Homo sapiens: one gene and its partners. The protein of the gene in region 1 purifies or fractionates together with the protein of each later gene. This does not show direct contact. Each region holds a gene or a part of one and is shown in the gene's direction. Other genes may lie near its edges. The genes, in order: GOSR1, PKP1, GDPD5, STX18, VSIG1, NSF and OCRL.

Region 1 (2,843 bases):
TTTGGTACAGAGACTGAGAAGTTTTTCATTCTGGTGTCAAAGTTTTGTTACATTATGGGTGTGAAGGGCATTTGATATATTTTTCTTAACTATGGGGTTTATTTTTCTAAATGTGGGTTGATTGACTGTTAATTGATTCAGGGTACCCTTAAAAGAAAAGAAGTTTTCCCATTGTGAACCTTAAATGATCAGAGAAGTAAGTTCATTGATTAAATTCTCTGTTGGGAGAACAAAACTTTTCTCCCTTGACACTTTATTATCTTTGATTTTTCAAAGGGCCTTGATTGGTGGTTGTGTCTCGGTTAAAATTTATGGGACTTTGCTATGTAGTTGGCATTTATAAAATCTGAAGTATCATAAATAAAGTTATTTATTTAATTATACTACCAGTCTTTTTTACTGGTCTGATTCTTTTGTGCATTCATTAAAGCTGATTGTGTGAGAGTGAACTGGGACACAAGCTAGTCTAGCTCACTGCAGCCAAGCAAACCCTGTTGATGGCTGATGGGCCTTTCCATTAGGGTTTTGCTTATGTGAAGTAATGGAATTATGTTGGTTATTTTCTTTATGAAAATAAACCAGTTCTTCCAAGGAAGTTAAAAGGCTTGGTATGGATGTTGGTGTCAGATAGGTCTGACTAACCTCTCCGTGCTGCAGCCTATACTAAGGTGACCCAGGGCCACATGTAGACAGCTAGGCCAGTGCTTTTTCCTCTTAGGGTTTCTTTGCAGAAAGAAACCTCCAGCAAGGGAAGAGAGGTGTGTGTCCACAGGAAGGGGCTCCGTGGGGATCCCATGAAGGGATTTGAGCTCTTTCAGCTCCATGTCATTTAACTTTTTTGTTTAACCACCTTGGCTTTCTCTCCTTTTTTGCTGTCCTCCTTACGGACCAGTTACCAGATTCAGAGGCTAACAGTTAGTTACTTGTTAATGCTAGTCACAGCCAGGAGGTCAGAAGGAATTTTCTACTTCTGGATCCAAATGTTACCTCTTAGGGGAAGTTATGCCCCCTCAACTATTGTCTTATTATAATGAATCTTTCCTTTTTGGTCCTTTTAAGTAACCACTCAAAACTTTTCATTTCACTGAAAAAATATGAAAAACCATGACAATAGGGCTGGGTGCAGTGGCTCACGCCTGTAATCTTAGCACTTTGGGAGACCAAGGCAGGCGGATCGTTTGAGGCCAGGAGTTTGAGACCAGCCTGGGCAATGTAGCAAGACTCTGTCTCTGCAAAAAAAATTAAAAGATACCTGAGAGCTCACTTTAATATCAAGGTATTTGCATCCATTCCCACCCTGTTAGCTCTTAAGGGAGGAGGGAAATCAATTCCAACCATACTTTCCTGTGATGGAAGATGTTTCCTCTTGAAAAAATGCCAATACAGATTTTTAAAACCTATTGTTTTCCAAATGCACTTTGTAAGTTTTTGCTTTTAAAATAGCTTCTTGGAACCAATTTTATTGTATTTGTACTTAATTTTTGTTCTCATCTAAATGTGCATTTTCTGACTGTATAGAAGAAGCTTTGGTATGTAATTTAATAATAAATTAGAAATCTAAATGATTGCATTTGTAATTGTTTATATTGAAACAGTAACCATCAAGGTAGTTTGGGGATAGAGATTATGGTATCTCTGGTGTTGATAAGTGTTTCTCATGATGTCCTGAAACCCAGGATGAAATAATACAGGTGCTGAAAAGCTGTCACATGTCATTCAGAAACCATCATATGAACAGTCCACTAGTATTTTAGCCCTAGAAGTGAAGGGGAATCTCTTAACATGAAACTTCAGGAGGCATAATGGGAATCTACAATTGTAGAATTGGCTGGGTGCAGTGGCTAACACCTGTAATCCCAGCAGTTCGAGAGGCCGAGGCAGGAGGATTGCTTGAGACCAGGGATTTGAGACCAGTCTGGGCAACACAGCAAAGACCTTGTCTCTACAAAAACTAAAATTAGCCATTCATGATGGTGTGCACCTATAGTCCCAGCTACTCGGAAGGCTGAGGTAGGAGGATCATGAGCCCAGGAGGTCAAGGCTGCAGTAAGCAACGATTGTGCCACTGTACTCCAGCCTGGGTGACAGAGACCCTGTCTCAAAAATAAATTAATTTTTTAAAAATCGTGTACTGCTGGGCTTTAGTACATTAGTTGTGCAACCAGCCCCACTGTCTAATTTTAGAGCTTTGCAATTAATCCAGCCAGTGATCAATTCCTCTTCTATAAAATGGTGATAAGGATGGCTACCATAATTGTGCCCTGATTATATTGTCAGGGTTATGTGAGGAAATGCTCATAAGCATCTCAGCAAAGCCAGGGGTACAGGGCTCACCTGACATAAGAGATATCCTTGGGTTTGTCCTAATAGCGAGAAACCGGGCCTCTTTTGCCTCTTTTTTTCCCTCTTGCTGATGTGGGAGAGGAGAGAACATTCAAGAGGTGATCAGCAGACATCCTTAATTTTGATAAAGGCAGCTGAGCGGGGAAATATAAGGTCGGTTCTGTGTAGATAGACAGGTGGAACCCAGCAATCAGTTTAACCAGCCTCCAAGCGGTTCTGATGCATGCCAGAGGTGGAGAACCACGCTCTATAAGTACACACATTCTATTTAGTCATTCCATTCTAGACCGATAGCTTTTATTTTTAGTTTGGAACTATTACAAATTGTGCTGCTCTGGACATTCTCGAACATGGGTTTTGGGACACACATGTACACTTTTCTGTTGCTTATACCTAGGAATAAGATTGTTGGATTATAGGTGATGCACATACTCAGTTTTAAGATATGTTGTCAGACATTTTTCCAAAGCAATTGTGCCAATGCCCGTGCCTACCAGTAA
Region 2 (3,500 bases), on another chromosome or scaffold:
TTTTGAGGTTAAAGAGCAAAAGGAGGAAGGCTGATGTCCAGGCAAGATCCATATTCCACAAGCCCTGGGATTCCCAGGTGATGGAAAGAGAGTAAGACTGAGGGGAGAAGGGGTTAACAGGCCTTAAGCACCTACCCTGTGTTCAAGAAATATGGTAGGCACTCAAGGTGGGGGGCACAAGAGGAAGAGGTCACCGTGAAGACCTAGAATTGGGCTGGGAAGATCAGACCATGTACAGAGTAATGACTGATAAGTATTTCTGGCATAACTTTCAGATGGAAAAGAGACAGCGTTAGAAGACTCCAAGTGCTAAAATTTATACTAAAAACCACTGATCAATCAAACGTTTTTTGATCACTTTCCACATGCATAATTTTGGCCTTGACAGAGAACTCTGAGATGTTCCCTGCCTGCAAAGAACCTTCAGTCTGGTTGGGGCATTGAGAAATAGCCTCATGACACAGACAGACAATAGGTTCTACAGACCAGGGCTACCTGGAAAGCGACATTTCAGTAGGGCCCATTTGCCAGAGTCCAGGCTGGGGCTGTTACCTCGGTCCCTAGGGCATCCTGAGCCTGGCACAAATTGGGTTGATGGTCTCTGACCCCCAGGGCTGCTCTGGAACCTGTCTTCCACTGACGAGCTGAAGGAGGAACTCATTGCCGACGCCCTGCCTGTTCTGGCCGACCGCGTCATCATTCCCTTCTCTGGCTGGTGCGATGGCAATAGCAACATGTCCCGGGAAGTGGTGGACCCTGAGGTCTTCTTCAATGCCACAGGCTGCTTGAGGTGAGAGAAGAGGATACATGGGGTCTTTTTGTCCCAGCCTTGGGCCCTTCCCCAGGCAGCCCCATCTCAGCCAACATTCAGCCGGTGCATAGAACATAACAGACAACCCGGCACTCCCTCTTATGGGCAGGCTCCAAGACACAGGGACTCAGGCCTTCCTAACTTCCCTGGAACTGGATAAGGCCCAGGACCCTACCACCCCCTTTGAGAGAATGCAGCGGACATTAGTCAGAAATCTGAGCTTGAAAATGCCTAGATCTGAATATCCAAACTGGTTCAACCATTTCCCTCCTCCACCCCATGAAAAAAAATGCATTTCTTGTGCTATCATCTTGAAGAGTGTTCTTTTAGACAAAAGTCTACCGATGGGTTGCTAATGAGTCACTTCCCAGCTGTGGTGTTAAAACCATTTGCCATGTTCATTGGCATGAAGATGGCACTGCTTCACCCAAAGTTGCCTAAGTTCCATACCAGGGTGTGGCAAAGCCCCTGTGGGGCTGGTGGGAGGGCTTGTTCTAGAAGCAGTGGTTTACAAGCTGGCGAAATGGGTGGGTGTGGAGGGGCGGCTGGTACAGGGCTTGGAACCCTGGAGCAGGATCCCTTTTAGGGTCTTTAATGGGGTTTGTCTTGCTTTAATGGGATTTGTCTTTCCCAACTCCTGAGAATCCCCCCAGAGTGGTGGGTGCAGCTGGCATGTGCCTCTGTGTCTCAACTTGTGTTTCTCCCTGCCAGCCTCCGGTAGCAGCCTCCAGGAAGCAGAGAGGCTGGGGAGATGAAAAGTGAGGATAATTAAGAGTTTTATGGGGTTGATGTGCTACTGGTAGCAACAGCAGCCACACCCCACCTGCACCAGGCTGATGAGCCCACATTGCTTGGGGATGAGCCCACATTGCTTGGGAGTGAGCCTACTGCTGGGGGCAGAACACAGCTTGGGTGGAGAGGGAGCTTCTGGTGCCCAGCCCGGCCACCCCCAGATCCACTTCTGATCCAGCATCAACAGGGCTTCTTCCTGTCCCACAGAAAGAGACTGGGCATGCGGGAGCTTCTGGCTCTTGTTCCGCAAAGGGCCACTAGTAGCAGGGTGTGAGCCTTGGGATGCAGCTGCGGAGGGACCGTTGCCACATGGAGCCATTGCCAGTTATAAAGTTACTGGGCAGAGTGAAGGAGGAGAAGAACTGAGTGCAAATGAGACCTCATTTCAGCCTCAGCCAGGGCCAGGCGGAATTGGCTAAATGGTTTCTCTTTCCTTCCGTTTTCATCTTTTCCTCTCTTCATTCCTTTCCTCCCTTTCCTCTTCTCCTTCCTTCCTTCTACCACAACTTCCAATCTCCACCCCGTCGTCTCCTCTCTGCCCTCCCCTCTCCTGCCTGTTCTCTCTCCTGCCTGTCCCCCACCACACTCTCTTGTCCCCACCTTCCCCGTTCTCTCTTCCCCCTTTCTCTGCCCTCTTCCACCCTCTTCTCTCCCCCAGGAACCTGAGCTCGGCCGATGCAGGCCGCCAGACCATGCGTAACTACTCAGGGCTCATTGATTCCCTCATGGCCTATGTCCAGAACTGTGTAGCGGCCAGCCGCTGTGACGACAAGGTGAGTGCATCCCCTGGTGGCACCCTGACCCCTAGGCCCAGCCCCCTACATTTTCTGGGTGCCTTTGAGGCCTGGCCCAGTGACAAGACAGGAGCACAGACTCAGGGGTGGTAGAAGAGGCATCTGGATGCAGGGCTCAGTGGTGGCTACAGGAGTGGGCTCTGGGGACAGCGTGCCCATGCAAATCCACTCTCCCTCACTTAGAAGTGGAGTAGATGCAGCTGCTTCCCTAATCTCTCTGTTTCCCGGTTCACTCTTCACTCTAATGGAAAGGGTCATAATCATATCAACCTCAAGGGTTGTCTGAAAGGCTTGATTAGTTAATAAGCAAAACACGAAGAGGGCCTGGCACAGAGGAAGCTCCCAGCGAGCATCTGCTGGCTGTGCTTCATTGGTGGTGCTGAGGCCTGTCCTGTGACCCCGAGCCCTGCCCCACAGCCCAGAGGAATCCATACTGGTGCCCCCAGGGCTTAGTGTCCCCCCTGAGATGAGGCTCCTTCTGCCACTGCTATCTTCCCACTGCCTCCCAGAAAAGCCATTGGCAGTCATCTTGCTGCCCTCTCTGGACTTCTGGACACACAGCACAGACAAACAGAAAGAAAAAAAGTTGTGGAGGGCAGATAAACAGAAGGCTGAGATGTTCCCACCATGGCAGGACAGTGGCTCAGGAGATAGTGAGGCCCAGCAGGCTCCAGATCGCCAGGGAACGGGCTGACATCACAGCACCTGGGTTCTCAGCACAGTTGCCGTAAGGAGGGATTTTATCTCCTGCTCCCTCCACTGGAAGCAACAGCAGGGCCACAGAGGAGAGCCTTGTCACTGGGCTGCTCAGCCTGCTTCCAAAGGGCAAGATGCTTTTCTGCTCTGTGTGCAATATCTCCAACACCTGTGTAACCCCAAGCCCTGGAAGTCAGATTCCCTTAGACCCCAGCAAGGGCCAAACATCATTAGGAGGGTAAATCTGCTGCCCCCAAACCCTAGTCCTTTGGAGGTTTGCCAAAGGAGATTGACAAAGATCTGAGCCCAGCTGCCATGATGAAGCCCTGGGCTCCAGGTGTTGCTGTGTTTTGTGTGGACTTAGCACCGCTGACATTGACAGCTAAGGACTGGCCCCAGGAAGAAAG
Region 3 (3,500 bases), on another chromosome or scaffold:
GAATCAGTCTGCTTGGGGACACCGGCAAGGGGCTCTGGATTCTTACCCCCTCCCTTGGCTTCCTGCTGGCAGGGCTGTGGTGCCTGGAGCTGGTGTCCATTCCCTCGGGCCCATTGTCTGACCTCCCTAGGCACCAAGGTGCAGTGAATAATTAATACTCCCCTCAGCTGGGGGCAGGCTCAGGGAAATAGCTCTATGTTCAGTGAGCTTCTGAACCCTACCAGAGGAGGTGGGGGCTCCTGTCTGTGCTGTTAGCAGTCTTGGATATGGGGGGGCAGGCAGGATAGGACAGGGAGAAAGTGTCATCTGGCCCCCAACAGGAGAGAGCTGGGGTTGATGATGTCCTGTCTCTTCTGTTGGGGGCCAGATGGTCCCACAGGCAACACTGGGAACCAAGCTAGCTGAGCTAGGATCAAGTGGGCCTCTGATTCCAGAGAGGTGGTGACGGGGAGGAGTAAGGGGGAGGGTACAGGGCAGAAAGGGGTGGAGGGGAGGCCCTTGAGGACTGGAGTAACCAGGAAGGCTTTGTCAGGGAGGTGGCTGTCTGGGCAGGAGCTAGAGGAAACTTGCTGCAAAGACGGGGGGTCCTGACATCCCTCCAAGAAGGAATCCTGGCTGTGCCACCGCCTCACTGAGAGCATGGGAAAGACACATGATCCCATCAGGCCTCCATTTCCCCCTTTGTGAAATGACGGTTGTGATGTCCACTTCTCAAGGCTGTTAAGGATCATCTTGAGGTCCCATGTGTGAAACACACGGCACTTTAGGCACTCAACAAGGGGGTGCCTCATCATGAGTGTGAGCTAGTGGGCTAGTGGCGGGGCAGGTGGGATAGCGTGGTAAGCCGAGAGGTAGGGAGAACTTGGGGCGAGGAGGATGGCTTGGTGGGGTTAGTGAGGGGTGAATGCCCATATAGGAGAGGGCCTTGAATGTTAGACAGAACTCACATTTCAGAAAGCTTAATGGAGCCCCCATTTAGAAGCCTCTGTGGCTCCTTACGGCCTGTAAGATGAAGACCAGGCCCTAGTTATGGCATTCAGGTCCTTGGTCACCTTAGCCTCTGCCCGGCCTTCTGGCTCATTGCTCTGCACTGTCTCCTAAACACACCACATGTGGCCCCATCACAGCCCCTTTGTTTGTGGTTCCTCCCATCAGAACCGCCATCCCTGCCTCTGCTCCACTTACCTCCCCACCTGTCAAGACCTGACTGAGGTCATAAATTCCCTCAGAAACATTCCTGGATTACCCAACCCTCTGGTCATGCCCCCTCTGAATCTTTAACATTCAGCAGTAATAGTAAAAAATAATACCTACTATCCATAACATTTTGCAGTTTGTAAAATGTATCCACACAATACTACAGTGATGATATCAACAACAGCTGATATCTTGAGTACTTACTATGAGCCAGACAATGTGCTAAATGTTTTATAGACACTCTTGTTCACACAAACTCCCTGAGGTAGCTACTGTTATCCCCTAGAAACTGGGGCTCAGAGAGGTACCTGATCTTGCCCGAGGTCACACAGCTCAAAGGTAGGGAGCAGGGAGCCAAGCTGCATCTGTTTGAATTGTAAATCTGTGCTTAGAAGATGTCCTGTCTCCTCACCTCCACCCAAGTACCTTGAAAGCATACTTTGTGTGTAAAAAGCCTGGACAAGGTTTTTTCTCAAGGCTAAGGAAGGGCAGTGTTGGACTGAGCATGGGGCCCAGGAAGGACCTGGGCCCTAGGCCGTGCACAGGCTGGCTGGTTGTCTGTGTGACCTGGGGTGAGTCGGCCCCTCTCTGGGGTCCCGTGTGTCCATGTCTATGGGGAGCAGGGTGGGTTCTGAGCTCCCCTGTAGCTCCAGCTTTCTACATCGTCTTTCGTGACCCTGGAGGGAGGAGGAGGAGACCACAGCACCAGGGCCAGAGGATGTGGTATGACGGGCAGCTGTGATTTTTGGCCTGGCCACTGTCTGGGCCAGCAGGCTGTGTGGGTAGCTGCCTCGCCCAAAGGAGGGTGGTGGCCTGAGCTGCAGGCAGCATGGTCATTAGCTGGCAGAGGAGACCCTGTGATTGGGAACTGGCTGGGCCAGGCCAGGCCAAGTTGGCGGGACTGGAGGCAGGCTGGCCGGGCCACAGCGGGGTCACTGGCAGGGCAGCCAGCTTCTCCTCCCTTTGCCCCCTTTGGGGTGGTGGCAAACACACACTGGGCACCAGAGCTTTGTAGGCCAAGGCTTACCCTTTCTCCTGCTGTGACCATGGGAAAGAGCAGTAAGGAGTTCAACCAGGTCCAAAGATGCTGCCTGCTATAAGCTTCCAGTACTCCTCCCATGCAGGTGGGATCCAAGCCTCCTCTGCTGCTGATTCATGGCCCTCTGCACACTGACTGTGGTCTGTGGATTGGGGTTCTGCTTGGTCTGCTTCCCTTGCTGGCTTGTCAAAACTAGATTCTATGTGCCCCCACCGAATCCTCCCCTCCCTCTGAGTGCCTAGCAGTGTGCCTGGCACAGAGCCACACCCTCCGGGCCAGGGGAGGCAGTGCAAGCTGCCCCATGGACAACTTGCTCAACTTTTGCACCTCTGTTTTTTCCCTGTACATTGGGGCTGATAATAACTGTTATTAAATGAGATGAAGGAAGTGGGGTGCCTGTCCAGGCCTGGCACACAGGTGGGTACTCCATCAGCATGAGTCTTCTTGCCCATCCCCTCGATGGCTTCGTGAACGAGCAACTCAGTAAGAAGCTGATGGAAGAGTCCAGTGAGTGATGGCTGGAGGGAGGGCGTGCCAGATGGCAGGGAGGCCTTCCCTTAGGGGGACTTAGCTGGGGTTTGCAGATTCACAGTTCCCACCACCTTCCCTGTGAACAGTGGTGTGTAAGCAGGTGCTGTTGGCCTGGAAGGGTCCCGAGCTAGGTTCAGGGGAGGGAGCAGGACTGGGATATCTGGGGACTTGGGTTTTCTTCTCAGGCCTACGCAGAAGAAATGACCCAGGTGGGAGAAGCCGTCTGGCGTCCAGCTAGCAGATGCTGGGCAGAGAGTGTGAGTTCTTCCTTAAAGGGAAGCAGCATTTATTTGGTGCTGCTCACACACACATCCAACCGAAATGTAACATGGTTGGAGATTCTGGTCTGTGGGGGAAACAGCATTAGACAAGGAAACACACAGATGCAAAACTTCCAAATTGTGAGAAGCAGGCTCCTGAGGCAGGGGCCGGTCCCATCAGTATCTGTGGCTGGTGGCACAGGGTAGGGCTAAATGACTTGGGCAAGTGATTTAACCTCTTTGGGCTTTAGTTTCCCCATATGTAAAATGGGGATAATTACAGCATCTTCATCATAGAGTTGTGAGGGTGAAATGAATTATACGTGTAAAGCACTCAAAAAAATGCCCAGCACATAATGAGCACTCAGTGCAGGTTAGCTGTTATGATCTGTATCTCCAGCACCTCACAGAGGATCTTAGAGAAAACAGGTGCTCAGGAAAGGCGTTTGGAATGAATCCCAGGCAAAGGGCAG
Region 4 (3,500 bases), on another chromosome or scaffold:
ATGAGGCTCCCAGCAAGCACCAACTTGCTAGCCATGTGTGTGGCCTCCTTGGAAGTGAACCCTCCAGCCCTGGTCAGCCCTTCAGATGACTGCAGCCCTAGTTGCCTTCTAACTGCACCCTCCTGAGACACACAGAGCCAGAACCACCCAGCCAAGGTGTTCCCAAATTCCTGACCCCAGAAGCAGTGATCAGTAATAAATCTCACTGTTTCAAGGCACTAAGTTTTATGACTCAGCTGTAGTAACCAGAACAATTAAAAAGATTGATAACAGTGACTTTTGAAAAAATTTTTTGTTAAATTTTGTAGAGGACCATTTCCTAAATAGTCTTTTTGAGAAAACTGCTCTCAAAAAACTCTGTGAAGAGAGTGTCTGCAATCAGGTTATTTGCAAATACCATCCTTTTTGGAAATTCAAAATGTATTTGAGCATATTAAAGGCTCTGAAAACTTATATAGTGAAACACCTTTCTAGCTTTGACTCAGCTTTCTCAGACTGATTCGACCACAGAAGTCCTTTCCCACAGCCCAGGATGGGTAGAATATACCCCACATGGAGCAGTTGTTACGAGCATGGGCTTCAGAGCTAGGTTCCCTGAGGTCATGTCCCAGCCCAGCCATTTGCTGACTGTGACCTGGGCAAGTTTCCTAACTTCTCTACACCTCAGTTTCCTCCTTTGTTAAAAGGTTGTTAATACTAGTACCTACCTGATGGGGATATTCGAAATTAAATAAATTTATCCATACAAATTGCTTAGAAAAAATGTCCACTATATGAGCCATTAACAAATGTTAGCTGGCATTAGTAATATCACCCTAATATGCATTTACATTGTTCCTTTAATTACAGTCTCTCTGCCTAACAATATGGAATTTATCCTAGATAGCACTCTGCCTATAATTTTATAGCATTTATGTAGATTCTAGTAAAGCTATTACAAAGCCTGTTATTGCATAACCTAAACGTTTTCTTATTAACCAGTTACTTGTATTTATAATGCACTCATTCATTCAACATATATTTATGCAATGGAATACCAGGCACTAATCCAGAATCTGGGATCTAGGAGCAAGGCTGACAACCAACAGATAAATAAACAGGGGGATTATAGACTGTGATAACTGCTATGGAGAAAACAGATGCAGAGGAGTGGGAGGCGGCCTTTCCTTCACAGAAGAGTCAGAGGTGGCCTCTCTGAGTAGGTGAAATTGAGCTGAGCCCTGTAGATGGGAAGGAAGACGATGCCCTGGGAAGAGCCCGTGGGGAAGAAACAGGGGAATGCCAAGTGCAGAGGACTCAGTCCTGAAACAAGTCTGTGCCTTCAAGTGGGTATTTAAGGACTTGTGCTTTCAGAGCTAACTTATATTAAGATGTGACTTAGAACATATACGTGTGTGGGTATAGGTATATATATGTGTGTGTATGAGTATATATGTTGGGGGGTATGTGTGTGGGGGTGTGTGTGTGTATATATATGGGTAGGGGGTATATATGTGTGTGTTTCTGTGTGTGTATGTGGGAGTATATGTGTATGTATATGTGGGGGTATATATGAGTGTGTGTGTGTATGTATATATGTGTATGTAGATATATGTGTGTGGGGGAGGGTATATGTGGGGGGTATATATACATATCTGCACATATATGGTGTGTGTGTGTATGTAGGGGGTATATATGTGAGTGGGGGGTATATATATGTAGTATATGTATGTGGGTGTGTATATATGGTATGTGTATATGTGTGGGTATGTGTGTGTATATATGTGTGTGTGTTTATGTGGGTGAGTATATGTGAATATATGTATGTGGTGTGTGTGTATATGTGGGGGATATACATGCATGTATGTATATATATGGGGTATGTGTGTATGTAGGGGGTTATATATGTGTGGGGGGTATATATATGTGGTATATATATTGTGTGTATACATGTGGGGGTATGTGTGTGGGGGTATATGTGTGGTGGTATATATGTGTGTGGGTATATATGTGGGAGGGTATGTATATATGTGTGCATGGGTATATATATGTGGTATATATGTGTGTGTGTGGTGTGTGTATATGTGTGGGTATACATGTGTTGGGGGTATATATGTGTGTGGGGGTATATATATATATATGAATATATGTATAATATGTATTATATATTATTATTAATAACATACTCAGCAATCTTTTTGCATTAGTGTCAACTACTGGGTAAGCATCAATCCAGCTTCCTGGGTTTGTTGAGTGCGGTGTGTCAGTCTATGGAGCGTATTCAGCACATACCAACTGCAGCCTCCCCCTGCATGCTGGTCACTGTGCCGTGGCTGCAAATGCAGAGGGCATGCACAATCTCTACCCTGCAGGCAATAATGCCAGTGTTAAGTGCCCCAGTGGAGGTGTGTCCGGATGGCCACTGGGCCCAGAGGCAGTGACTGCTCCCCAGTACAGGGACACAGAGCAAAAGCGCAGGGTCACATGTGACTCCTTCTGTTTTCAAAAAGGAATCCTGTTATGGAAATAAAATACCTGCCTGCTAATTATTTATTTTTAGATCTAAGCTGGAACCAGAACCAAATACAAAGACAAGAGAATCCACATCTTCTGAGAAAGTTTCACAGAGTCCTTCAAAAGACTCTGAAGAAAACCCTGCCACTGAAGAACGTCCAGGTACGAATTGAGATGAAAATCTCACCTTGCATTTCTTCCTTGTGACATGTTGGCAAGAGTACAGCACAGGAACGAAGTAGCACAGTCTCAGACATGTTTTGGTGTTTGTATTTGCATAAAGCAAAGGAAGCAGGAGGCGGCAGCCTTTGTGTCTGTCACAGTTGATCTTCGTGAGTGCCACAGAGGCAGGGGGTGCATTCACCCAGTCACCTGGGAGCTGGCGGGGTCCGGGAGAAAGGGCCTGCTGGAGGGGTGAGGCCGGGAGCTGTCTGCCTCAGGAGCCCTGTGTGCCGGCCTCAGGAGAGGCAGCATTGCCTCCCTGGCAGCCATGCCCTGCATGTCAGCTCTGAGCTGCCAGGCCTGCATCCGGGTAGAGTGTATAACCTCAGCAGCCTTGCACAGCCAGTCAAACCAACAGGACAAAATGCAAATCTGAATTGACGTGCTGCCTATCACCACAGATACTAGAGGGCCCATGGCTTAGAATAGTTCCTGATGCACAGGAGATGCAGAAGAAATACAGGGTCTCCATGAAGTCCGAAAATGTAGGGGGACATACACAGTGTGGTCATGGATGTCTGCGATCTGTGTGTCTGGCTGGTACCCCTGCGTAGGGATGCCTGCATAGTTTGCCATATCTCAAAGGCAGAGTGGAGCAGGGTTCTTTGTGTGAATCACAGGGTGATGGCGTGCTGGAGCCAGGAGAGACCTGGGAGTCCCCTTTAGCATCCTTCTCCGTAGTCTCATGGCAGTTCTTATTAACTCTTGTCTTCCAGATGCTAGGCATGGTCCTGGACATGTCACAGAAATTACAGGTTGAGTATCTCTTATCTGAAATGCTTGGG
Region 5 (3,500 bases), on another chromosome or scaffold:
GGCAGGCTAACATGGAAATTTGGGGTGGTCTGGTGCCTTTCTGGTCACACAGATGGCTTCATCTTCCATCCAGTCTGTTAATGCTAACACTACAGAGACCCCACCTGTCCCTGAACAGACCATGCCTTGACTCTGCTTAGCATGAATCTCTCAGACAATACTTATTCTTCAAGAATGTTCATAGTGAAAAAATACCCTTTGCCAGTCTCATAAACAACTTAGACAACTTCTTTCCCAGGACCTAGTGTTCTTATGTTCTCTGGCTTCTCAGGTTTTACAACCTGAAATACACAGGACAGAGCCACACAATAAAGAGTTGTCTGCCCAAAATGCCAGTGTCACCCCTACTGAGAAATACTGCAAGTTCTTCCCCACCCCACCATCAAATTTATGTATTGTGTCCCATTCACTTTCTGCTAAATCTGATAAATTAATCTCATGGTAAGGTGTTAGGGACTAGCGAAAGCTTATTTTATTCTCTTCTAAAGAATGCATTGAATGGGACCTTCCATGCCTTCTTCCAAAAGGAGCAACTCAAATGGCAGATACCCAGGCAAATGGAGGGTTGGTAAGAGAGTTGGTTTGGAAGCAAGAGAGTCTTTCTTTTGGTATCCCATTCCTTCCACATGCCATCCCTGCACCACAATACAGTCCAAATAAAATTCTGAGCTTGTGACCATTGCCACCTTATACCTGCACACCCCTTCCCTATCCTATGGCTAGCCCCTCTATCAGCAGTACAAGAAAGCAAGAAGCTGGAAAGGAAAGAATGGGTGGTTTGCTGTGGATGTCCATGTCCTCCACCTTCCCAGAAGGAATCTGCAAAAGCAGCTCTGGAAGCTAACTCCAACTCAGATTCAAACAGAAAGCAGACTGAATTCTTTCAACCCTTCTTGTTTATACTCCATGCTTCTAGTTAGAGAGCAGTGTCACTAAGCTGAGGAAAAAGTCTTTTAGGACAAATCTGGTTCCCAGCTGCACGGCCTTGTGTGAATAGGAACTTGGCACAGTAGGAAGGGAAAGGTTGCTCTGCAAAGAACTGAGGGGCCTACAATTGCAGCTGGCAAATATTGAGGGCATCATGTGGTGAACATACTCAGCATGGGAAGCATCATGCCAATAAATAGCAACAATTGGCAGGAGAAAGGTTGGGCTGGAGCAGGGAATGGAATGGTCCCAAAAGGAGAAGGTTGCCCAGGAATCATCTTTCTCATCTTAAGAAGCACTGTGAGTGCCATCTTAATATATTCAGTGGGAATCAGAAGGTCTGAATTCCAGGTCTGACTGTAAATTGTGTGACCTTGGGAAAATGGCTCCCTCTATTGAGGCCTCGGTGTCCTTTTTTTGTATTAGAAAAGGATGAATTCGAGTTTACTAACCGCAGGCCTCTGGGTCAGATTTGGCCAGTGGATGTATTTCAGTCGGCCTGCCCAGTATTTTGTTTGTTTGTTTCAACAGTTCGAATGCCTTGTTTGCGTTGACTTTTCCGTTCCCTGCAGTCCCCATATCTGTTATGAGCTTACCACTACTTACCAGCCCCTCCCAGCCATTTCCCATATTTCCAATATCCATCGGGCTCCTGAAGGCCCCTTAACCTTAGAAACCACAAACCAAACTATCTCACAGAGGTCTTATAATTAATGTGCAATTATGACTCCACCCATCAGCCTCTAGCGTCACCCTGGGGGCAGGCAGAGAGGACCTTGGGAGAAAGCAGGGCAGTCTACCATGAACCCAAGCACAAAGTGCAGGTGGGTAAAAAATTAACAAGCGCCCCTTAAGGGAACACTGGGATGGATTTCCTTAAAAAAATCACCTCCTCCCCACCTCCACCCAAAGATGTGGCCCATTGTACATCCGGGGCTTTTTCTGGATCTCCATTGCTTTGACGTCTAAATTGATAATATTCTTTCTTTGAAAAGTGTACAAGCCACACAGGATCATGGGCCAGGCTTTGGCCACTGTTCAGCTTTGATTTTTAAAAGAGTTATTCTTTTATGGAAAGTGGAATCAAGTTGTAGCCCTTCCTATATGATTAGATAAGCAGTTTCAGGAAAACACTTCTTTCTTTTTTTCTTTACAAGGACAGTGTGACTGTGTGGACTTCCCCTTAACAGAAAGCCCCTCCATGTATGTGTCTGGCTGCTGCTGTCTACCCCTAGGTACTTTACTTCTTACAGAGAACTGTGAAGCCAAAGCCTTGGCTCTTTTAGGTCTCCATTGTTAGCCCTCACTACCCCCATTTCTGTCTCTAATACCTTTTAGTGTCAATCGTGAGAGGGCAAAATGTATTAGACTACAGCATGAGGAGCTAGCATGTAAGAGGTAGTAAAGGTCTTTTTCATGGGTAAGGTTCCAGGGCCTCATTGCTTATATACTCATTTCACCTTGACTCATGCCCAACTATGGGACTTTTACAGTGGGCATGGACACATGGATACAGTGGACACTTTTACTTCTTCTCATATCCTAATTCTGGCCTAAAACACACCATTTTGGCCTCAAGATCTCTGCAGAAATAAGGTCCTTTTCACCTGGATCCTCTGGGACTTGCTGTGGGCCTCAGGCGTGACTGATGTTGTATCTCATTGTGATGTCATCAAGCATCAGTATAAAACAGGGCTGATGTTTTACACTGTCCACAGTCTCCTTGGGAGGAGGGGAAGTGGCCAGATGTTGAGGCTGTGAAGGGCACTCTTGATGGACAGCAGGCTGAACTCCAGGTAAGAAACAACAAGACCTCAAACTGTCAATTAGAAAGTAAATAAGCCCCATGCTGCCTAGTGAAATTGAAAGCCTGATAGCGTGGGTGCCAACTCAAATGAAAGTAATCCTCTGATGTATTGAACCTCCTTCTGTCCCACTTGAATACCTGGAGTTAATCCTGGCTTTCTGGTTTGGAAGTCAAACAAGACCATTCTGGGGCAAGAGTTTGTGATTTCAGTAGGTGTGAATGAATGAATTATAAATGGCTGCATTTATAATGCAAGCAAGAAAACACGTTGATGTTAGAAAAAACGGGAGAGAAACAAATAGTTTTCTCTGTAAATGTACTCTTTTCCTGGGATTTTTCCCTCAAAATCCAGCTTTCTGCCTTAGTTTTAAAATATATTGACTTTCTGCTTAAAGGAGAATACATTTGAATTCATCTAGACAATATCTTTTGGTTTTCTAATTGCTTTCCCTCTTTTATTGGCCTGTTAAGGTAAAGCCCACAGTACAAGGAATTAGGAAAATTGGATTCCAGATCTGTCTCAACCGTCAATTTTGCCTTTTATTTTTTAACCTCTCTGGGCTTTGGTTTCTTCTGTAAACTGAGGGAAGTGAATTAAATGAACTGTAAGGCCTTCCAGTAGATTTTATGAAAAATTAGTCTCACCAGACTAAGACAATACAGTTTATTGAACAATAACAATCACTTGAATAATATACATTTACATGAAACCAACAAAACATGTACATAGAAGGTGTGTATTATGAAGGGACCTCAGGAATTACCT
Region 6 (3,500 bases), about 16 Mb from region 1:
CCAGGAGGCAGAGCTTGAAGTGAGCTGAGATTGCGCCACTGCACTCCAGCCTGGGTGACAGAGCGAGATTCCGTCTCCAAAAAAAAAAAAAAAGTTGTAATATGTCAGAGGAAGTGGGAGTTTCCACGTACTAGAATTTTGGGGGCTGCTTTATTCAGCAAATATATTGAATAGTTGATGTGTTCAAGCTATTGGGCTGGAGACATAAAGATAATTGTGAACTCTTCCCTCAAGGAGTTCAGAGTCAGGAAAATGGACATATTTTCAAATTAGTACAATAATATTGTAGTTACCATGGTAGAAATACGTACTAGGATACTTTTATTTTGATAAAGTGCTCTTGATCTTCCATCTCTTCTCTCCTTTAGGTTTTAGTTACCACCTGTAGACAGATTTACTGAACATATCTGTCTCCTACTTTCAGATTTGTACTAAATACCCTCACCTAGATGTTTTATCAGGTCTCAGATTTAATATTGCAAAACCAAATTTATTGTCTTTTTTACTACTTTCCTTTCTGCTCGCATTTCCCTGTTTATCCCAATTTCCCAGGCTTAAAACATCAGGATTATCTTTGATTCCTGGCACTCTACTGTGCCCTAGGTCAAGTCACTTGCCAAATTTTTTCAGTTCTGTCTTGGCAGTGCCTTTTAGTTCTCACTGCCACTACCCACCTTCTCTTTGATTAACCTTCCTGTATCATATCATTCAACCATTCAGACACTTTCAGTGATTCCCCATCATTTACAAAACAAAGTACAGGCTTCTTTTGGGTCTTTTGGGTCCTCTAGATCTGACCCTAACTGGCCTTTCCAAATGTGCTCCTGATTATTCTCCACATACTTCAGCCAAACTTAAATAATCACCGGTCATCAGACATTAATTTATTTTTCAACATCTCTGCTTTGGTTTTGTTTTTTTTGCATCACTGAGGATCTTCATCCTCTACGTTTACCTGTCTTTTCAAAACCTGGCTCATATGCTACCACTGTCCTCACACCTTTTCACATTTTCCCTTTCAAGAATGTTATACCCGTTTCCTTCTTGAAATAGTAATGTATCATTTATGGTACTGTCAGTTGACTTTGGTTCACAGTAGATTTATTCGGCATCTACTGCATGCTAGACCCTGTGCTAGGAGTTAATACCCCGACTGCAAAGAAGTAAAGTACCTACCATTAAGCTGCCCTCAGTCTAACCCTCCACGTGCAGTAACAGAAAGTACATGCAAGGCAAGAGAGTGAACTCATGTCAGATATGGTCAACTTGTGGGGTGAGAGAAACCTTCATATGCATGTCTGTTGGTAGAGCAGGGCCTTTTAGGTAGAGGGAACAACATATGCAAAGAAGCAGAGACACAGAATAGCATAGTGCGTTGGAGTAGTTTAGTATTGCTTCAGCATGGAAGTTAGGGGAGGGATGGTAGAGAGATTGTGGGGGATAAGTCAGGAGACTAAAGTAGGGATGGAGCACAAAGAGCCTTTTATACTCTGCTAAGAAGTATGGACTTTTTTTCTGTGAGTAGTGCTAAGCCATTGAGTTTTAAGAATAGCAGTGACATAGTGTTAAAACATAAGATCACTCTGGCAGCTCTGTCGAGTGGAGTAGTTAGAGGAGTGGAGTTGGCGACACAGGACAAGAGGGGGAGCTTTTATAACAGTTCAGGCAAGAAATAAAAGCCTGAACAGTTAGGTTGAGTATGTAGATATTTGGGTATATCCTATCACTGGTTCTAGACCAGGAATCCAGCCAACTACCAGTTTTTATAAATAAAGGGCTTTTTTGGAACAGTACACATTAATTTGTGTACTGTCTATGGCTGCCTGCATGCTACAGTGGCAGAGTTGAGTATTTGCAATAGGGGCTGCATGGCCCACAAAGCCTATTTTAGTGCTTTTATTTTAGGTACTATCTGCCACTTTACAGAAGTTTGCTGGCCCTTGTTCTAGACTTTAAATCCTTATCTTATTCACCTCAGAGTCTCCCATAGTACCCCAGATAGATCTAAATAATGAGCACATGGTAGGTGTCCAGTAAATTATTTTTCTTTTTTTTTTTTTGAAACAGAGTCTTACTCTGTCGCCCAGGCTGGAGTGCAGTGGCACAGTCTTCGCTCACTGCAACCTCTGCCTCCTGGGTTCAAGTGATTCTCCTGCCTCAGCCTCCCAAGTAGCTGGGACTACAGGCATGTGCCACCACGCCCAGCTAATTTTTTGTATCTTTAGTAGAGATGGGTTTTCACCATGTTGGCCAGGCTGGTCTCAAACCCCTGACCTCGTGATCCGCCCGCCTCAGCCTCCCAAAATGTTGGGATTACAGGTGTGAGCCACCATGCCCAGCCAATATTTTTTAAATGAGTAAACTTACGTAACTATTCTGAATCACGCTCTATCCATAAGTCATAATTTCCCTACATAATAGAGGTGGATTTGTTCTAGCTCAAGAATGCCAAAGGTTTGGATGGTGTGGGAATATTGTATTGGGTCTTTATATAATGGATCCATTCAGGGACTATGTTTTTATTCTTCCTTGTTTGTTTGTTTTGAGACGGAGTCTCACTCTGTCGCCCAGGCTGGAGTGCAGTGGTGCAATCTCGGCTCACTGCAAGCTCCACCTTCCAGGTTCAGCCATTCTCCTGCCTCAGCCTCCCAAGTAGCTGGGACTACAGGCACCCACCATCACGCCTGGCTAAGTTTTTGTATTTTTAGTTGAGATGGGATCACCGTGTTAGCCAGGATGGTCTCGATCTCCTGACCTCGTGATCCGCCTGCCTCGGCCTCCCAAAGTTTTGGGATTACAGGCGTGAGCCACCATGCCCGGCCATGCTATACTGTTTTAATAAGAAGAGATGGCAACTTCAAGAAAAATGATGTAAACAGTGTGAAAACTGGTCCCTACCATACTGATCTTTCATCTCAGACCACATGGGTGCATCTTGATGTAATCCACAGTAACTAGTTTACTAGTTGTCATATTTTTCATATGTGTTGGCCATGGAATTTTTCTCTTATTTAGTCATCTGTCATTTTAACTACAATAATCCTATCCCAAAATTTCACTTTAAGCCGTTGTCTCAGTAAGAAACATGCTTTCTTCAAGCATATATTGGGTTTATCTACATATGAGGCAATGAGGGATGGTGGGAAGATCGCAGATATCGTAGTCAGAAGGTGTGGTTATGCATTATATTTCTTCCACCTTTTTGTTTCTGACCTGTCAAGGGGAGACACTACCTATCTAATCAGATTTTTATGAGAATGAAAGCAAATACTTTATATAAAAGTGCCTTGTAAACTCTATAAATGCTAGTTATCTCCATTTTTTTAATTGGCTGATTTGAGAGGATATCAGTACTTTTCAATATATGAATTTCTGATTTTTATTGACTCTTTGTAGTTACACATTTTCTAATTGTAAAGCTAAAATGTTTGTCACCCTTGTACATAATATATTATCCTTCTGATTTGCAAGTAAGCAGTAGTGCAAATAGTTCATGTTTC
Region 7 (3,500 bases), on another chromosome or scaffold:
TCTCTTAGTATTTTTAATAAGAAATCAATTGCTGATTGTTAGATCGTAGTGCTGCTTCTTAGAACCTGGGAAAATATGTGCACACATGTAACGTAGTTCCCCATGACTAAAGGAAGACTTACTTTTGATTTTCATCTCCTTTCTATTTCCTGACCCCTGCATCTATTTTGTAAACTGTGGCCAGGCGCGATGGCTTGCACCTGTAATCCCAACATTTTGGGAAGCTGAGGCAGGAGGATTGCTTGAGCCCAGGGGTTCAAGACCAGCCTGGGCAACATTGCGAGACCCCATCTGTACAAAAATAAAATTAAAAAAACAACATTTGCCAGACGTGGTGGCAGATACATGTAGTCCCAGCTACTTGGGAGGCTGAAGCAGGAGGGTTGCTTGAGCCCAGCAGTTCGAGGCTGCAGTGAGCTGTGATTGTGCCACTGCATGCTAACCTGGGTGAGAGAGTGAGGCCATCTCTAAAGAAAAAGAAAACCGGCTGGGCGCGGTGGCTCAGGCCTGTAATCCCAGCACTTTGGGAGGCCAAGGTGGGCAGATCACAAGGTCAGGAGATTGAGACCATCCTGGCTAACACGATGAAACCCCGTCTCTACTAAAAATACAAAAAATTAGCCGGGCATGGTGGCGGGTGCCTGTAGTCCCAACTACTCGGGAGGCTGAGGCAGGAGAATGGTGTGAACCTGGGAGGCGGAGCTTGCAGTGAGCCGAGATCGTGCCACTGCACTCCAGCCTGGGTGACAGAGCAAGACTCCGTCTCAAAAAAAAAAAAAAAAAAAGAAAAAGAAAACCATCTGTAAACACTCAGGTTTTACAGAACTAAAAGTTAATGAAGAACAGTAGTAAGCATACAATATCTATGTCTTGATGCCCTAATTCCCCTTGTTTAATCATCCTAATAATAATATCGAGACTACTTTTTAGTGTTAAAGGAGTTAGTTCCTTGCCAGTTGCTTCTGTTGTACCTGAGTAATGGAGCCAAATAAACAATTCAGTCTTGGGAGGGAGGTGAAAAAGGTGAGACTACTCCATTTGACCAAGGTAGATCCAGGCTAATCCCAAGGAGTCAGTACCCAGAGTTCAATTAGCCAGGAGGGTCTGGCAGGTGCACTTGGTCAAATCCAGAGAAATCAGAGGGGAAGAGATAGGTTGGGTCTAGACACTTGTTGTAAAGGAAGAAGTCCAGGAGAACCATTGAGAGATAAGAGAAATCCAAACTTGCAGACTGCTTTGCACCCTGTTTGGTACGGAGGGCCTTGGGCCCACAGGTAGTAGTTGTAACCTGAAGGTATACTCTGCCCCCATGTGTGGGGCAGGGGCAGAGGTGATGAGATCACTGGGAAATTTTCAGAGAATAGATCTGAGTTAAGAAAGTAATTCACCTCTGGGCTTTCAGGGTCACTTCCTTTGCCTTCTGTTATCTAAAGAAGTATCTAAAGGACCCAGAGTTAAATCATTATGTTACAGTTAAGGGGAATTAAACTTGCTTTCGCTGAATTAACATGTTGTTATGTTCTGTACTATTAATTTCTCATTCGTTGATTTGCTTTGAGGAGTTCCATTTGGTTACTTCTTCAGTTCATTTTTATTTTAGTTGATTTGCTCATAGTCTTTAGAACCCAGTGCTATAAAAAATCCCTTTAAAAAATATTAAACGAAAAGGGATTTAAAAAAATATGTTCTAAGACCTAGGAGTAGTGACTGAGAGAAGCAGTTATTTAGTTAGGCATGTATTCTTTTGGTTGTAGTGAGTGGTTTTCTCTTCCCTAATCCTACTCTCTTTTTTTTCCCCTCTCAGAAGCAGAAGAAACTCTTTTGATTGACATAGCTTCTAACAGTGAGTATCTTTCTGAATGTGCTTGATTTTTACTCAACAAATATTTACTTGAACACTCACTACATTTAAGACACCTTTTGGGGCACATTTTTTATTTTACCATCTTTTCCTGTAGTCTCCTGTAGCAGCCATACAAATTAGCACTGTTTCCCAAAAACATGTAGGCTAAGCCTAAGAAAAAGCAGGTGGCTGGTAAGAATCTTTATAAAAATAAAAAATAATGATCTACCTTTCTAATGCTGAACTTCCGTGAGCTACCAGTATTGTTGCTGTCAGTTGAATCATTGCTGTAGAATTGATAATTGTAGGAAGGGCTGATGTTTAAAGCACATAAGGTTTATTGGTGGAGTTTTTTTGGTCATTTTTTAACTGCTATTACATTTTAAGTTTTTTCCCTACCCTCTTTTTAAATTTTGTGTGTTAAGTCATAATATTTTCCTTTATTTGTTGTATTTTTTTGGAAGGCTGAAGAGTCCCTTAAATTGCTTGTCCAGGCATTCCTTTAAAAAAAAAAGTTTAGTCTTTTATTTAAGCCCCATCCCCTCAAGGCATCTCTTTATTAGAGGGAACATGATCTTCTTTTCAATGTTTCCATTCTCTCATTTTTATCTGTTTGAAGCAAATCATCTTTGACTTTCTGTGCAAACTGTTCTTTGTTTATCATCTAATTGTACTATTTTATGGAGTGGAGAAAATGGGCACTCGATGCTACTGTGAGGTTGCTATGGAAAAGAGTATCTGACCACATGAATCTAAATCAAATGGGTTGCCTTATCTCTTGGTTGAGTCCTTGGATGAGTGGGAACTGGCACTGAGCTTGGGACTAGGGGTTTACATAACTTTGTTTAGACAGTCCCTGCCCTTGGCACTATTAATTTGTATTGAACACTTTAAGTAGGCTTTTTTTCTGGCTTGAGTTTTTTTTTTTTTCCCTTTGGTCGTGAATTTTAGAAGTCTTAAAGGCTGTGCCTGAAAGGCCAGGTAAACCCCAGCTGCAAGTATCCAAGAGAGAAAATAACTTAATGTCTATTTCTTATTGTGCTTAGAAAGGAGAAGGCAAAAACAACACTTAAAAAAGCAAAACTAGAACAAAAGCAATTCCATAACAACTGACACTGCTGCTGAAATAAGAGATGGAAATGTCCTGTATTTGATGTGGAGAAGTATTTGATTCAAAGCTGAAAAGTTAAACTGAGCTGTGCCTTTTCTCTTATAAGCACCTAATTTTCGGCATTAGTTTTGTTGTGGCCGCTTCTACATTAGCCATGTGTTGCTATGTCCAGAGTTCTAGTTACTGGCTCATAGGGGGAAAATAGGTAAGTGACCACTTGAATAAAATCCTTTGTTATTTCTACCCATTTAGTAGTATTTGCACTGAAACCATATTTTATCTTGATCCTTGGGCTTCATACATAAACCTTTATGGTACACGGTGTGTTGCAGGAAGGAGATCTTGGGTTTGTTAGGCAGGCCTGATTTTAATGTAAATATGCATTTTCCCATTGTCTGGATATTGGTGTTAAATGCTTTGTAAATAATTTTTTCTCACAGAAGTAATACATCTTCATTATATACAATTTACTAATTCAGAAAAGCTTAAAGTATCAAATTAAGATTATTTTCCTGCAATCTAGAGATCACCACTGTGGTTAACATT

Evidence for each region.
Region 2: the proteins of GOSR1 (region 1) and PKP1 purify together in Homo sapiens (affinity purification with mass spectrometry; one large-scale study listed by BioGRID and IntAct). This does not show direct contact.
Region 3: the proteins of GOSR1 (region 1) and GDPD5 purify together in Homo sapiens (co-immunoprecipitation; one large-scale study listed by IntAct). This does not show direct contact.
Region 4: the proteins of GOSR1 (region 1) and STX18 purify together in Homo sapiens (affinity purification with mass spectrometry; one large-scale study listed by BioGRID and IntAct). This does not show direct contact.
Region 5: the proteins of GOSR1 (region 1) and VSIG1 purify together in Homo sapiens (co-immunoprecipitation; one large-scale study listed by IntAct). This does not show direct contact.
Region 6: the proteins of GOSR1 (region 1) and NSF purify together in Homo sapiens (affinity purification with mass spectrometry; 2 studies listed by BioGRID and IntAct, with this or other methods). This does not show direct contact.
Region 7: the proteins of GOSR1 (region 1) and OCRL purify together in Homo sapiens (co-immunoprecipitation; one large-scale study listed by IntAct). This does not show direct contact.

What each region holds. Positions count from the first base shown.
Region 1 is NC_000017.11:30,525,250-30,528,092, forward strand, and holds the end of GOSR1 (Golgi SNAP receptor complex member 1), read left to right. Parts: 3' UTR 1-2,343; downstream 2,344-2,843. UniProt on the Homo sapiens protein: Involved in transport from the ER to the Golgi apparatus as well as in intra-Golgi transport. It belongs to a super-family of proteins called t-SNAREs or soluble NSF (N-ethylmaleimide-sensitive factor) attachment protein receptor.
Region 2 is NC_000001.11:201,318,006-201,321,505, forward strand, and holds part of PKP1 (plakophilin-1), read left to right. Parts: intron 1-612; coding exon 613-790; intron 791-1,810; coding exon of another isoform or gene 1,811-1,873; intron 1,874-2,261; coding exon 2,262-2,376; intron 2,377-3,500. UniProt on the Homo sapiens protein: A component of desmosome cell-cell junctions which are required for positive regulation of cellular adhesion.
Region 3 is NC_000011.10:75,519,442-75,522,941, reverse strand, and holds part of GDPD5 (glycerophosphodiester phosphodiesterase domain-containing protein 5), read left to right. Parts: intron 1-1,084; exon of another isoform or gene 1,085-3,500. UniProt on the Homo sapiens protein: Glycerophosphodiester phosphodiesterase that promotes neurite formation and drives spinal motor neuron differentiation.
Region 4 is NC_000004.12:4,437,549-4,441,048, reverse strand, and holds part of STX18 (syntaxin-18), read left to right. Parts: intron 1-2,539; coding exon 2,540-2,655; intron 2,656-3,500. UniProt on the Homo sapiens protein: Syntaxin that may be involved in targeting and fusion of Golgi-derived retrograde transport vesicles with the ER.
Region 5 is NC_000023.11:108,062,065-108,065,564, forward strand, and holds part of VSIG1 (V-set and immunoglobulin domain-containing protein 1 isoform 2 precursor), read left to right. Parts: intron 1-2,645; coding exon of another isoform or gene 2,646-2,723; intron 2,724-3,500.
Region 6 is NC_000017.11:46,695,169-46,698,668, forward strand, and holds part of NSF (vesicle-fusing ATPase), read left to right. Parts: intron 1-3,500.
Region 7 is NC_000023.11:129,546,759-129,550,258, forward strand, and holds part of OCRL (inositol polyphosphate 5-phosphatase OCRL), read left to right. Parts: intron 1-1,804; coding exon 1,805-1,843; intron 1,844-3,500. UniProt on the Homo sapiens protein: Catalyzes the hydrolysis of the 5-position phosphate of phosphatidylinositol 4,5-bisphosphate (PtdIns(4,5)P2) and phosphatidylinositol-3,4,5-bisphosphate (PtdIns(3,4,5)P3), with the greatest catalytic activity towards PtdIns(4,5)P2.